Regions from separate parts of the Homo sapiens genome. Here region 1 is linked to region 2. Evidence: fine-mapped expression QTL. Tissue or cell type: whole blood. Region 2 holds a variant in brackets; the other region holds the start of a gene. All regions are shown on one strand. Distances are between the middles of the regions.

Evidence for each region. PIP is the estimated chance that this variant, and not a neighbour inherited with it, causes the effect.
Region 1: CHSY1 starts here. The variant in region 2 is fine-mapped to the expression of CHSY1 in whole blood (INTERVAL, PIP above 0.99).

Annotation. Positions count from the first base shown.
Region 1 is chr15:101,248,863-101,256,948 of GRCh38, forward strand. It overlaps CHSY1 (chondroitin sulfate synthase 1), which reads right to left and starts at 3,186. Exons shown (of 3, transcript NM_014918.5): 1 at 2,275-3,186. The coding sequence starts at 2,594. It overlaps LOC107984727 (a long non-coding RNA gene), which reads right to left and starts at 7,072. Exons shown (of 2, transcript XR_001751746.2): 1 at 6,724-7,072; 2 at 6,498-6,618. RefSeq lists silencers at 2,171-2,600, 2,791-3,100, 3,271-3,650.
Region 2 is chr15:101,188,605-101,196,689 of GRCh38, forward strand. All of the region lies in intron 2 of CHSY1 (chondroitin sulfate synthase 1), which reads right to left. Among named protein-coding and RNA genes, the nearest start is that of LRRK1-AS1, 41 kb to the left of the region's middle. RefSeq lists enhancers at 884-1,771, 4,899-5,442. The variant A/T (reference allele first, on the strand shown) is at 3,908.

The DNA of each region.
Region 1 (8,086 bases), 60 kb after region 2:
AGCAACCTCTGCCTCCTGGGTTTACGCCATTCTCCTGCCTCAGCCTCCCGAGTAGCTGGGACTACAGGCACCTGCCACCAAGCCTGGCTAATTTTTTTTTTTTTTTTTTTTTTTGCATTTTCAGTAGAGATGGGGTTTCACCGTGTTAGCCAGGATGGTCTTGATCTCCTGACCTCATGATCCGCCCGCCTCGGCCTCCCAAAGTGCTGGGATGACAGGCGTGAGCCACCGCGCCCGGCCTGCATTACATTTTCTGAGTATTGCTGGTGCATTAGGCCCCCCACTGATTTGAATATATTGATACCGTAACCATGAAAATGTATTTGGTTCAGGGGGCATGGGGGAGATAAGGGAGTTACCTAATTTACTGTTTGTACTAACTGGTTTGTTAACTGTCCCCAAAACTGTGATTTCACATGGTCTATCACCACACTAGAGTCATGCGGATTTACTTTCAAAACCATGCTGTAAATAATCTATATGGCTCATCCTCGATTTCCGATACGGCTGTTTCTCTGGTCAAAAAAAAAAAAAAAATCCCATAAAACCTCAGGTAATGCAAGGTAGATCTGGGAGAGATCCTGATAGGCTGGTTCCCAAATCACTGCACTAGTCTATGTATCTCTATCTATCGATCGATAGATAGAATTTTTTTTTTTTTTTTTTTTTGAGATGGAGTCTCACTCTGTAGCCCAGGCTGGAGTGCAGTGGCATGATCTTGGCTCATTGCAACCTCCGCCTCCTGGGTTCAAGCGATTCTCCTGCCTCAGCCTCCTGAGTGGCTGGGACTACAGGTGCACGCCACCACACCCGGCTAATTTTTGTACTCTTGAGTAGAGACGGGGTTTCACCATATTGGTCAGGCTGGTGTCGAACTCCTGACCTCAGGCGATCCGCCCGCCTCGGCCTCCCAAAGTGCTAGAATTACAGGCGTGAGCCACGGCGCCCCGCCTGCATTAGTCTGTATTTACAATACCTGCATTCTAAGCTTTTCAAGCCACTCAGGACCCTTCCTGGCGGAATGTGGGTTCTGGACTTAAGCAGGACCCTAATGGAAATGTGCAGGAATGGGGATCAAGCCATTCAAGGGGCAGTCACTGAAGACCACTTTCACCTTCTTTCTCAGTCCTTTACTTTCTCCCTTAAAGGCAAGGGAGACCATATATGCTTTTCCCCTCACAACATCTAGTGCCTGAAAAATCTGACCAAGACTGCATTTAAAAACTGAAGTGTAAAGGTATTGGTTATAAGAACAAACAGCAACCAGCTTAGCCTGGCTCAGCACTGGCTGCTCTGAAATTTCATTACCAGACAACTGATGCTCTAAAACCATTCCCCACATTGGTTTGCTCTGTGGCTGGATAAGACCCAAACTTTATCCATACAGTAAGTGTCTCTATACTTCACACATATAGGGTTTCCATCAAATCCCTTTATCGAGTCTACAACCCTCTCCAACTTCAAATTCACTCCAATACAAATCTGATTCTAACCATGCCAGCCATTCCAAAATCATCTCCCTTCTAGAGACTACATTGGCTAATCCCTTTGTTAAACCTGAACACAATTCCAGCTGCTTTTATGACTCATTTGGCCAACTAGAGCCCAGTTACTGGATAACATGCATACACCACCAAGCTGAACTAATTAACACCAGAATGCAGTTTTCCACTGAATCTACCAAGGGCCAAGAACTGCTTTTCCCCAAGGTTCTCTCTCTCTGTACTCAACAGACTGGTGTGGTCCAATATGCTGCGGGCATTCTCTTTCATTTATAGGAGTGCCTCCAACTGCGAAATGTGAGAGTATGATGTGGAAAGGTTCTAGAACTAGATTAACGTACACGGGCTCCAGCTTTGCAAGGACAAAGGTGCACATTTTAGGGAATCCAGTATCAGCCCCAACTGCCTCCACTATCAGGTACTGTGCTATGAGTTTTCCAACATTATGAGGGAGACCCGATCTGTCGGGCCCTTCTAACGAGAAGCTTCGATTTGCAAAGGCTAAAGTGCCTTCATCAGGGTGAGAGGTACACCCAGCGAGGCCACACTAGTCCATCTGACCCCAAAGGCCATGTTCCTGAGCGCCGCGCTCACCATCCCGCCTCTGATCTTTTCTCCCTCGGCCCGGCGTCTCCCGAGAGGCAACCCGATCCCGCCGGAAGCCCAAGAAGGGCCTAGGAAGCGGGCGGAGGCGAGAGCCAGGAGAGCACCCGGGATGCCGGCCGCCGGGATGCCGGACGCAGGAGGCGGTGCCCGGGGAGCAGGGGCTCACCTGTAGGCGGCCACGGCCCGAGTCTGCAGGTATTTCTGGGCGGTCATGACTCCCACGAAGAGAAAGTTCCTGTCGCGCGGGCCGCCATCTGGGTCCGAGCCGGGCGGCCAGAGCTGCGCCCCGCGCGCATCGCCGCGCGCCCCGCCGGCCTGGGAAGCCGCCGCCTGCCCGGACCGGCAGCCCTCGGGGCTGGCGCGGCGCCGTGGGCCCGCTCGCTTCAGCTCGGAAGCCCGGGGCAGGACGAGCCGCGAGGCCAGCACGAAGCCCAGGACGAGCCCGAGCAGCACGCTGAGCCAGGCGCGCCGGCCGCGCGCGGCCATGCCCGCGCCGCTCCGCCCGCCGGGCCGCCGCCGCAGGCTCCGCGCGCCCTCAGCCCGCTGCCCCCGCCCGCGGAGGCCAGCCCGCCCTAGCGCCGCGAGGCCCGGCCCGGGCAGCGCCGCCGCCGCCGCGGGCCCGCCGCGCCCATCGCGGCCCCCGAGCCGCCCGCAGGCCCCGCGCCGGCGCTTTGTTCCGCACGCCCGCCCCCGCCGCCGCGGCCTGCGCCTTTAAGAGGGGACCATGCCCGGCGCGCGCTAGCGGCGGCTCGGGCGCGAGGTGGCGGCGGCTCCTCCCGCTCGCGCGCGGGGACGCGGGGCCGGCACGACGGCGACGACGGCGGCGGCAGACGAGTCCGGGCTCCCGTCCCGCCCTGCCCGCGTCCTCCGGCTGGCTGGGCTCGGTTCGCACGGCGCCTGTCCCCGTCCTCTTCGTAGCCGGCGCCGCCGCCGCAGCTGCACATCCTCCGGCTTAGCTCGCCATTGCAACAGGAGCCCCTCACGTCACGCACGGCGCGTTATGAAGTGGCCCCGCCGGCGGCGAGCCGTGGCCCCTCTCGGGATCCGTCCGCGCCGCGCGATTGGCGCAAAAGTGAATGAGGGGCGGTTCACGTGGCCGAAGTTTGACCAAAAAAAAAAAAAGCCCTCTCGGGCGCCCCGCCCGCGCGGTCTGCGACTGGAGCTGGCGGGCGGAGGGGGCGTGGGCCCCCGCCCGGCGCCCGCGGGGCCGGAGCTGCCCGTGATCCGCACCTAGCACCCGGCGCAAGGGCGTCCCCGCGAGGACGGCCGCTTCCCGCACCGCGGCGCCCGGGCGCGAATCTCGGGAGCCAGCCTTGCAGTGGGGGCTTCTCGGCCCCCAGACTCCACGCTGCGCACGTTCCTCCCGCACGGGCCGTCCTCGCTGCACCCCACGGCCACGCCCTTCCTGCCGCCGGGCCGGCCCCGCGCTCCCGGCCCCGCGCTCCCGACCACACTGCAGCTTTGTCCGCAGTCCCGCGGCCGCACGCAGGGAACAGCCGTCCCGGAGCCCTGGGGACGTGCGCGCCTGCGAGTGGACCGTGAATTCAGTTACCTTGTTCCCTGTTGCTAGTTTCTACGCTAAATAAGAAGAAGAAGAAGAAAAAGCCATCTTTAATACTTAAGGTCCACGCTTCTCATACAGTACTAGCATTTAATGGATCTCGAAGACAAGGAAAATGAAGTTAATGCCCTGGATGGTAAACCCTACTTTCATTTACATACTGTGTGGGCAGATAGCCGGCTAGTACCCCCAGCCTGGGACTTTGTCCCTACTTTAATATAGTCCGTCTGTAAAAGTGCCGTGGATTTCTAAAGACGGATTTTGGGTCCCAGATCCTCTACTCTGGATTTTAAGTTTTATACATTTCCTCTGCAATACTTCAGCTAAGGCAGCAAAAGCGGAGGTCTCCATACAACGAAAGTTTGTGTAGAGTTTCAGTCTTGTTACTTAGTCACCAGTATATTGGGGTTTTCTAATGAAACTTTTGAAGGGCAAAGTGTTTCCCTGGGCCTGAGAAGTTACCTGCATTGAATCAAATAAACACATGCCTGGGGCAATCCTTGGATCTTTCTTCATTGTTGACCAAATGGTTGAAATACTATCACACAGTTTAAAATGCCTGTGGGAGCTTCAGATACCTTCTCGGCACCTGAATGGTGGTCACTCTTGTTTATTCTTTGGATATTACCACTTTCTTTGACACTTGTGATTTATATTAAAAATAGTTCATTACCTACCTTCCCACAGAGCCCCTCCCTAAGGGGTGATCCACATCTAAAAATAAAATACTCATTATGCAGTGAATACAGGATTCCAGCAGTGGTCTTGGGAAAAATACAGAACATACAACCATGAATTACAGGCTCGAAAACCATCGAAAAAGGTTTCCACTAAGACCATAAACCACAAATGCCGAGGAGTCACCAGATCCCCCAAATTCAGCAGCCCCATCATTCACAGTGATTTACATGAAGTACGAATCTGGCCAGATTCAGATGTTCAATTTTGTAGCATATTCAACGATTTCAGTATTTTCTAACCTGCTTTAGACTTACCTAGTTTTCTTCGAAACTAGTGTCCAGTGAAAAGCTGGCCGGGCGCGGTGGCTCACGCCTGTAAACCCAGCACTCTGGGAGGCTGAGGCGGGCGGATCGCCTGAGGTCAGGAGTTCGAGACCAACCTGACCAACATGGAGAAACCCCGACTCTACTAAAAATACAAAATTAGCCGGGGGTGGTGGTGCATGCCTGTAATCCCAGCTACTCGGGAGGCTGAGGCAGGAGAATCGCTTGAACCCGGGAGGTGGAGGTTGCTGTGAGCCGAGATCGTGCCATTGCATTGCACTGCAGCCTGGGCGACAACAGCGAAACTCCGTCTCAAGGAAAAAAAAAAAAAAAGTATATAAATATCTGATGGGAATAATATTCTGAGGATGCCAAATATTTTGTCCTCCTCAATATCCTGGTTCCTAGTTGTCCCTCAGTTCCTAGGTTAACAGTCTCACCTGTCTCACCTGCAGGCTTAATGGGGGTCTTTCGTAATGTAGAAAGGATACCCTTTTCTTTGTAAAGGCTGAGCCTGAGGGCTTACAATTCCCTGGAGAAGGAGAGTAAGACATACGGGAACTCCCTCTGGGAGAAGAGGGATATGCCAGGCCAAGAGAGGGTTGGAAGGAGAAGAGAGAAACTGAGGTCCTGTAGAAGTCTGCCAGGGGCAGGGACCAATTCCGGCATGCAGCCTAGGAGCAGGAGGGCAAGCTCTAGCACATCTGGAAGGAGCAGCTGGATTGTTGAGCTGAGGCAGTTCTCCTGGGGAAGAATCCAAAAGTGTCCCAGTAAGGGGCCTGGCTCAGGAGACAAGGCTATCCTAAGTGGGGATTTCACAGCCAGTAGCAAATACCTGGAATCAAGAACTTCAGTGACAGCCAGAGACCCAAACAGCTGGACAGGACTGGTACCCCCAGTATGAAGGCCTGTCCCATGCCCAGCCCCACTAGTCAATACCAGCAAGGAGCCAGGGAGGACAACGAGGGTCTGGAACATCTGCCCCCAATGCACACACATGCGTCCTTCCCCACAGCCCCCTGGAGGCCAAGGCTGTCCTCATCCTAAAGCCCCCTCACCCTAAGTAATTTTTAAAGGTAAGGAGTAGGCAGGGTGATTCGCATTTATAGGGATTTCACTGCAGGGAGCTGAGGAAAGACTTTTCATGTTCCGGGCTTCTTGATTTCACTGTGCTACTGGCCTTCTCTGTTGAGGGAATCATTGACCATTTTTCTCATCATAAAAGAAGGGGAGGTATTAACTGTTACCAGGAACACTTGTAAGGAAGCCCTTAACTGTAGTTATTCCATGAAAGTCCCAATGGCACAGGAGTGGCCCAAGAGGTGGGCTGTGATGGATCAGGGATCAGGAGTGTGGGACCGAGTCTGAGCTCTGCGTGGAGTGAGTTCCACCTGGAGGGGCTCCGGGAGTCCGGCTCTGTCTCCAAATGAGTCTTTCTGCTGGATCACGTTAAACGGTCCTCCATAGTGATTCCAGACCAGTATTCAGAAATGTGTTCAAAAATCCCAGATCACTTAACTTCCCTTCTGTGTTCATGAGTGTGACTCTTTATGACACATTATTAAAGTTCATCGCCACCTACCTTACTGAGCATTTTCTCACAGATGGCAACTTTGTTCCCACACACTTCACATTTCTTTTCTGTTGCTAATACATTGAACGTCTGTTACCAGTATAACATTTCATATAATTTGCAGCAATTTCTTGGAAACCCTTGGTAAATACCTCAATTGTTTGTTGGCAGCAAGCCTCAAACGACCGACAGAGTTCCCTGTTAGAGCTTCTTTAAAGATGAAGCCTCTCCACTCACGCCTCAAACAGGGGTCCTTGGAAAAAGTGGTAATTTTTATTAAAGAAAAAAAACTTTCAGAAAGGCCTGTTTTAAGAAACAGTGAATGCTGAGGAGTTATAATCATCCATCCTTTCAGAAGGTTCTGTTCACTGCCTGCAAAGAAGAAAATCTATAATGACCACTTTACTAATATTGCCACTTAACCTCTGTTAACCCAATAAAACACTGCTTCATTATGAATGCTGCTATTAAACTTACAAGCAAGATCCTCATGAGGTTGTTAATTTCGCTCACTATTTCCTTCTGTTTGTAGCATTTCCAGTCAGATGCAGGAAAGGGCAAGTGAGCAGGGCTCACGTTCTGGTTTCACACACTGGCCTATTCCAGCCCTGGGTGTTCTGCAAAGTCCTTCAGTGCTTATCAGCTGTGTACACCGTTTCCATCAGACGCTGAGTCAGTGTGAGTGCTTCTCACACTGTGTGTGTGTGTGTGTGTGTGTGTGTGTGTGTGAGCTTTCATGTGTACGATAGAGACACAAAAGAGATTTAAGTTCAGTATAACCATGTGGACCAGCCAGATGGGATGTGATCTTCCTAACTAGAAAACGCTGGGTGCCGCCAGCACAGGCACTACTGGGAACCAGCCTGAATGTTCTTTAGGAGACAACCTCACTGCAGAGGCTGAGGACAGTTGGCTTCTGGTGTTAAGACTTAATCCTTGTGGAGAGGAGTTTGCCTTTCCCATCCCTTGCCAAGAAATGCATTGATCTTTAAAGCGGTGCCAGAGTTTCCACAGCTGGGAAGTTTGCACAAAGACAAAGCTCCTATCCACAGGAGGGAACTCCCTGTAGGAACCCAGGCACTGGACAGCTGGGCAGCAGCATGGCCACCTGAGGGCTCAGTGCAGCTGGGGCCAGATGTGCAGCTCAGATTCGATTCCCACTGGAGGCCTAATGAAACGTAAAACTGGGAAAAACATTCACGCTGCAGAAGACGGTTTAAGCTACAAATTGAGGCAGCAGAAATAGGGATCTACAAACACCTGAAAGTACAATGCAAGAGAAAACACTGTCACCATAATACTCATGGCTAAATGGCCCCAGGTCATTGATCCTTCTCACACCCAGTTATGCTATCAAGCCCATGCTAGGGTCATAAACACTCTTAATGCACACCTCATGGGTGATAAATGTTGTTATCCAAAGTTGGCAATTAAGGCCTCTCTAGGAACTCAAAATAATCACCGTATGTATATTCACTCGGAGGAGTCTGTGGAAATAGAGGCTTTCCCAACATGCTTGCGGGAGAGCAAAGTCATACAAACCCACTGGGAGGGCGGTTTTGTTTGAATATAAGTGTGAATTTTTATTTCCATTTTTTTAAAGACAGGGTCTCACTTTGTCACCCAGGCTGGAGTGCGGTGGAGTGATCGTGGCTCACTGTCAACATTACACATTACAAGTGCATTTGCTTTCGACCCCACAGTCCTGCTTCTGAGATTTGTCCTCCAGCCATACCAGTACAAAATGACACTTGAACGAGGTTATTCTCTGCGACACTGTTTGTGATAGTAAAAGATCAGACCCCAGTGTTCATGTATAGGGGAATGGATAAATACACAA
Region 2 (8,085 bases):
AAGAGAATTATTATGAATGAGTCCTGAATGGTTACTAATTCTGAAACCTAAACACCTTTTAGAGAAGCCTGACTCATTTCAAAATAATTTTGAGAATTAAGCTTAGCAAAGTAAAACAAAAGCTGTTGCTAGTAATTCAAGGCTTCTGCATAAGACTATAAGTAAAGCGATAAAACTGAAACAATATATTTTGCAACTGAACATTCCATGTCTACATCATCAGCAGAGACTGTGGTAGGAGACCCTTATCTGCAGTCCGAAAACTATCTAAACTCCCATGTCTTCCCTTCACAAACATCTGATCTGGGGCAATCAGTTGAATGCACCAGGCATCGCCTTAACAAAAAAAAAATGAAGTGGCAGACGTGGCAGCATGATGCAGGATGAATACATGCAGAACCATCTTTAAACAGATGAGGTCCTGTGCACACACGGCACTCAATATTTACTGAACGCTCCCGTGAAAGGCGCCGTACCAGGCAGTGAAAGCCCAAATGTCACGTACAGAGAAGAAACAAGCGCGAACACAAGATCGAGCCGGCGAGCGTGGCGGGCGAAAGAGTCCCAGCCCGGGCCTGCCACGAAGCGGCCACCAGGCTTCTCTCCCAAGGTGTTTCTAAACCCGGCCCACCCAGCACCAGGTATGGCCCTCTGGCCTCCACGCCCGTGCTCTCTCAGCACCCTCTCCACTCCAGTCAACACGGACCACACACCAGCGTCACACGTGACCCAACATGTCTCTACGAGAACGTGATATAAGCTCTAGTCTAGGGGACTGCCAAAGCACAAACTAAATCAAAAATAAAATTAAAAACAAACTTACAGGGACAAGGTGGATGTAAGCCAGAAGGGATGGAGCTCGGGGGGACCAGGACGTGCCACACAGGCCCAGTGCAGCCGGGTTTAAAGGGAAGCTAGAAATCCAGCTGTTCTGTGTCAAGTCTAACTGAAGTGCTGGCAACCAGTTCAAGTGAGAGAGAAAGGGAAAGGGACAGAGAAAAGGAAAAGAGAGAAAAAAGAAATACAAGCCAAAGTATATCTGTGGGTCAAATATGACCTACAGATTCACCTCCTTCTAGGATATTTTTCATCTACACCTGACTTTTTGTAGAATCTTATTCGACATAAAGACATTCAACGCCGTGTTAACGTATAGCATTTAATGAAGAAATGTCTTACTTAAAAAACCCAACCACCCCCACCACCGCCTAAAGACTCCAGCGGCGCTGGGACAGTGGAGGCCTGGTGAGTGGGGACAGCACAGTGGCGCTGTGGGCGGGGAGCAAGGGTTCCCGCAGCCCAGCTCCACCACTTGAGTCCTCGGAGGAAGAGCAACTGCTCTAGAAGCCCTGGGGTCCCAACCCAGCTTTGGGTCATGCGTTACACTCAGAACTGTCAGTGTTTCTGTCATTACACAGTGTTGAGTGCGGTGGGGTTAAATGCCACAGGTTTGGACCCTAGGTTTTGAGCACGACCCCTGTGAGGCTGAAGACTCCACGTCTGCCATCTCCAGTTCATATGAAGTCTGAGGGGGGACTCTCACTTCACAGCTACCTCACAAAGGCACCATTCTGAAAGTTTTCTTTCAAAAAAGAGGGTAAGAAAAACACTGGAGAGGGGACTGAGGGAAGAAGAGGGAGTGGGTTTGTTTTTCTGGGGAAGGGTGGGTGGGGAAGGGAAGCTAGTAAAGCTTTAAATTCCATAGTGTCAAATTCCCAGGGAAGCAATATGAACAGTTTTCAGAGCATAGGCAACCAACAAAAGCAATCCCACGGAGAAGTGACAGGCTTTTCAACCCTTGGGGCTGGAACAACTGGACATCCAAATGCAGGAAGATGAAACGAGACACAGACCTTACCCTTCACAGGATCACAGGCCTAAATGCAAAAGGCAAAACTGCAAAACTCCTAAAGAAAACAGAGGAGAAAATCTAGACAACCTTGGGTTTGGTGATGACTTTCTAGACACAACACCAAAGACACACTCCATGTAAGAATTGATAAACTGGACTTAATTAAAGTTAAAAACTTCTGCTCTGCAAAAGACACTGCCAAGAGAATAAGACAAGTCACAGACTGAAAGAAAATATTCACAGACTTATAAGACTTATCTAAAATATACAAAGAATTTCTAAACTCAAAAATAGGAAAACAACCCAATTAAAAAGTAGCCAAAGGCTTTAACAAGCACCTTGCCGAAGTTACACAGATGGTAGAAAAAAGCATGTGAAAGTCATCATATGTCATCAGGGAGATGCAAATTCAAACAACGAGATGCCACGACACACCTAGTAGAAGGGCCGAGAGGAGCGACGCGAAATGCTGGTGAGGACATGGAACAAGAGGGACTCTCGCTCACTGCCGGGGAGAATGCAAAATGCTACAGGCACTTAGGAAGACAGTTTGGCAGTTTCCTACAAAACTAAACATACTCTTATAGGATCCAACAAGTGAGCTCCTTGGTATTTACCCAAAAGAGCTGAAAAGTTAGTGTCCACACAAAAATCTGCATATGGGCGTTTCCAGCACTTTTGTTCATAATTGCCAAAACTCAGAAGCAACCAAGATATCCTTCAGTTGGTGAATGAATAAACTGTGGCACATTCAGATAATGGAATACTATTCAGCATTTTTAAAAAATGAACTATCAAATCATGAAAAGACACGGAAGAAAGTTAAATGCATGTTACTAAGTAAAAGAAGCCAAACTGAAAAGGCTACATACTGTACGATTCCAACTATATAACACTGTAAAACAAAACAAGGCAAAACTATGAAGACAGTAAAAAGATGAGTGGTTGCCAGGGGTTACAGGGGAAGGAAGGATGACCAGGCAGATCACAGAGGATTTTTAGGACAGTGAACTGTTCTGTATGATACATATATGAGGGTATCTGTCATAAACTTGTTTAAACCCACAGAATGTTCAACACCAAGAGTGACTCCTATTGTAAACTGTGGACTTCGGGTGATAATGATATGTCACTGTAGGTTCACCAATTGTAACAAAGGTACCACCACTCTGGTACAAGGTGTCCATATTGGGGGAGACTGTGCACGTGTAGGGGCAGGCGCCACTTGGGAAATCTCTGCACATTCCACTCAATTTCGCTGTGAACCTAAAGCTCCTCCAAAAAACTTAATTTTTTTTTAAAGCAACCTATTAGGGAAAAAACATCCTCAAATTATCTATGTTAAGTAGATTGTAGGGGAAACTGGTAGTACTTTTTCTCTGGCTTCTCATTTATAATAAATTCATTCATTTTCCTTCCTTCATCCATCTATCTACTCACTGCTCTAAGCAAAAAAAAAAAATTTACAGAAATATATAAAATACACTAAACTTCAGATCCTTTGTGGAAAGAGGTAGGTGGAAATAAAATGCAAGTAATTAATAATTAACAATGAGTAGGATTGTTTGTTCTTTAACACAGTATTCTAAACTAAAAAGCCCTATACAAAAAGAAGAGAGAAATATTTTTAAGCATCTGCTATGAGATACCATACTTCTCTCTCTCTCAACACACTCATTTAATCCTCACAATTTTAAACTCCTTGAGAGCAAAACTCATTTTGTTCTAGGTGCCAAGCACTGAGTAATTGCCCTCTAAGTACTTGCTGAATAAATGAATGAGTAGATACTGTATCTCGTTTACAGGTAAGGACAAAAAGATTAATCACAGACAACAATGTAAGTGGCTCCTGTCAATACGTAAACATTACAACAGAAGAGACGTGTCATGCCCAATAAACAAGAGCTAAGAGAACACACACTCTGCACAGGGCCTTTGCCTGCTCAGAAAAGACATCCCCATCCCTACCCCCACCTCCTACCCCTCAGATTCCCAGACAGCCAGGCAGGGGTCTGGGGCAGACCAGCCAAGGCAAGACAGCCAACCTTAACCCCA[A/T]CTCCCCCCACTCCCAAACAATATGGCAACAAGAGCTAAGACAAGGGGACTTTCAAATACAGAAGATCAATATCTTCAGAAATACGAGAGGAAAAGCATCCTTCAAAGAGGATCAACTAGAATTCTCAGAATTCAGAGTTCTAAACGCCTCCCTCGTGGCTCCACAGAGGTGCCTTGAAGGCAGGTCTCACAGCACACAGCAGAGCCTGGCATTGATGTATTCCCTTAATAAACATTTATCCAAAGGTTAAGATGTCATAGCTGAAAGTAATCATCCTACATGTATTTCCAAAATAACCTACCTCCCTGCACAATCATTCAACTATCCTTTTAGCTAAACTCTAGGCAACATGTTTAAACTGTCAGCCAGCCCTTTCACCCTTCAGAGGCACCCAATTTTAAAAAATGCTTATTACCACTCCTCTCCCATTGAAGTGAAATAATTTATGTGATTTTATATAATAACATTAACAACTAACATCTCTCGGAAGCTATACCAAGGACCTACCCTGTATGCACTGGTGTAATCCGACGAGGTAGCTCTGTTACTGTGCACGTTTTACTTTCAGGGATACTCTAGTTTGTGCGTTCAGCAACTTGCTCACACCCCGCAGCCACTGCACACAGCAAAGCCGAGGTTGGCTCTCAGCTCTCTCTCGGGCTGGTTCTTGACAAGACAACTAGAAATGCCTGTCCGGCAAGCAGGCAACAAACAAGGAGTGTGTCAGACGGGGATGAGAGCTTTGGAGAACCACGAAGCTGGGGAGACAGCAGCGAGGGCAGGGCTGCAGCATCATATCCTTGGGTCAGGGAAGGCCTCTCCAGCAGGGAAAACCTGAGGGAGACCAGACAGCAGTGAGGGGGCCAGGGAAGCTTTCCAGAGGGAATCAACCTTGGAGCAGACTGAAGAATACGCTGTGCTCTTTCAGAACATTCATTTCTTCCCCTGGGCAAGGGGCCACACCCTGGAGCACGGAGCAAGCATAAACGGCTGGGCCACCAGCCTGACCAGCTGCCCGGGAGCAGGCGAACGCTCCTTCCTCTCCAGCCGCAGTCACGCTGTGTGCATGCACATGTGCGTATTTTAATGGCGTCATCAGCAAGAAAGGTTTAAATGCTGGAAATGACTATTCACAGTTTCTGACCAAGTATGTTTACTCCATGGACCCAAATTTGGGTCAGATAATGCATAAGAGTAAAGAGAAGAGTGGGAAAGTCCTCTATTTAATGTGCACACAATACCAACACTCCTGGCACCGAGGAAGACACGCTGGGGATAGCACCATGCTCCACACCAGGAGAGTGTGCATCTTCACGCTCCTTCCTTGCCTGACAAAACCTGCTCTCTTGGCCATGGAGACCACTCTGACATCACTTCTGCTTGGTGAGCAGGTGGGGCACTGAGTCCCAGCAACAGAGGGCACCAGCAAGGGTAGGGCCATCAGCGTGGATTTCCACACCTCCCTCTACCACCTTCTTCCTCCATGTGCTCAGGGGCGGTCAGATGCCCTGGCCTTGGCCAAGCACCAGGGCAAAGTGGGATCCAAAGGCCACCAGCATCTTTTAAAAGTGAAAGTGACTCGAAAGCTTCAAGTAATTTTCTCTGTGCCCTCTTCATGTAGCTACGGAGCGCCTTCGGCAGGAAAGCCATCACTAGTGACAGTAGAGTTAAGTAATCTAAGAATGGGTAACTTCTGTTTTATTATTAACATTAACACATAGACCACCCACGTGCTACAAACTGAAAGAAAAGAAAAATTTCATTGGAGGTAAACCTGTCTCAACTAATTAAATGTCTCTACTCCTCTGCTTCTTTCTTAGCCTGTTTGTGTGTCCATGTGTACGCACACATTTTACATGGGTACCTCAACTGAGAAACATTTCAGTAGGCTAGGCAGCATTTTAAAGTATTTCAAAATGATATTTCACAATTGCATTTTCAATTGTAATTTCTAAACTAATTTTAGATCAGAATTACGTAGCCACAACAGCTATCCAGCCATTAATTTTGCCCTTATGTTCCTTGTTCTCTACTTGGTATTTTGCACCATTAAATAAAGCTACATAATAATCAGGTGCTGAACGGAAGAGGATGCGACAGCTGCTTCTGAACAGTGCAGTGGTCTTCAATCACTCACAACCAGAGCTTCCTACTCCTCCTAGAACAGATCTGCTGCATGCTACATGATCTCCAAGTCTCCACACAATTCCATTTTCTAATCTTGCCTCTATTTCTAAATTAAATCACAAACCCTGACTTTTTGTATGCATGGGTTGGGTTGGGAGAAGGGAGACAGGGAGAGCTGTGAAGGGTGGGAGGATAAACAGTGGCATCTCAAAAAGTCAAAATTCTACTTTCAAGAGTACACTTCTGATGCCAAGAAGATAAGATCTCATGCACTTCCTCCCCAGGTTTTGAACAGATTCCACAACATATGTCTTATAACAGACTGACTACAATGAAATAGAGGGATTCATGAATGAAAAGTAGTCTTACAAACCGCATTTCATAAGCTCGCCCATAACCCACGCGACTCTTAAAATGCCGTCAAGTAGAAACATTTACATCACTTACGATGAACTATTTTTAAACCTTCTTTATTATTATAAAACAATATATACTTATTATAAAATTCTGGAAACGGGAGGAATCACTCATAATCCTACTCTGACATTTGAAAAATATTCCTTCTAATGCAACATATTCACATATAAGATTACAAAACTAATTATACTTTGCAAACTATACAGTACTTACATACTCATATATCACACCTGAGCAATAATCATATTTTGGATCATCTTATTTTCCTGAAATAGTTAACAACATTAACTGCTAAATAAAACCAAGCTATCCTACTATTTGTGTCAGGATTTCAACCAAAGAAAAAGAGACATGAAAATTATAAGCTATAAGAACAACAAAAATTTCACAGATGTGAGAAAGTTTAAAGGCTAATGGTAAAGGTATAAGTCATGTGTCAACCGAAAGCTACAAACTTTTTATTACATTTTTTATTTAAAAGCTGGCCGGGTGTGGTGGCCCATGCCTCTAATCCCAGCACCTTGGGAGGCTGAGACGGGCAGATCATGAGGTCAGGAGATCGAAACCATACTAGCTAACACGGTGAAACCCTGTTTCTACTAAAAATACAAAAACAAAATTAACCGGGCGTGGTGGCGGGTGCCTGTAGTCCTAGCTACTCAGGAGGCTGAGGCGAGAGAATGGTGTGAACCTGGGAGGCGGAGCTTGCAGTGAGCCGAGATAGTGCCACTGCACTCCAGCTTGGGTGACAGCAAGACTCCGTCTCAAAAAAAAAAAAAAAAAACCCTGTCTCCAGGGAGGAGGTAATTGCAGGAGAGACTATCAAATAGATTCAAATTCCAGATACATAGTGTCGACACCCCAGTTAGTTAATATAAATTATATATAAATATTAAAAATGGACATACAAGACCAGGAGCAGTGGCTCATGCCTGTAATCCCAACACTTTGGGAGGCTGAGGCAGGTGAATCACTTGAGGTCAGGAGTTCGAGATCAGCTTGGCTAACGTGGTGAAACCCTGTCTCTACTAAAAATACAAAAATTAGCCAGGTGTAGTGGAGGGCGCCTGTAATTCCAGCTGAGGCGGAAGAATGACTTGAACCTGGGAGACAGAGTGAGCCAAGATCACAGCACTGTACTCCAGCGTGGGTGACAGAGCGAGAAGCAGTCTCAAAAAAAAAAAAAAAAACATATATGTAAAATAAGCATACCCTAACTAAACAATGTAATTCTCATGAGATCCATAAGTATAAATTACACTAGAAGAAATGAAAACATTTTTCTTTGCTGGCTCTTATTCAGGCACTTTCTGGTGTCCCATGCTGATGTGAAGGCCAGGTGTCAGAAGTGGGAAGGTTTACGGCATAACCCATGTTTACTGGCAGAAACCAGGAAAACTCAGAGAGGTAAAAAGAAACATTAAACCTATTCTGTCTACCTAGTGATAACCACTGTTATTATCTTAGGGTATAACTCATGTCAAACTAACTTGAGAGAAGCCACAGCACTGTAATGCCACCAAGCGGGATTACACCCCGAGATCCATGACTAGACTATAAACTATATACACTAGGAACCATATACACTATGCGAACTATAGGACGATTAGCCAACACCAGCAATAAAGCCACA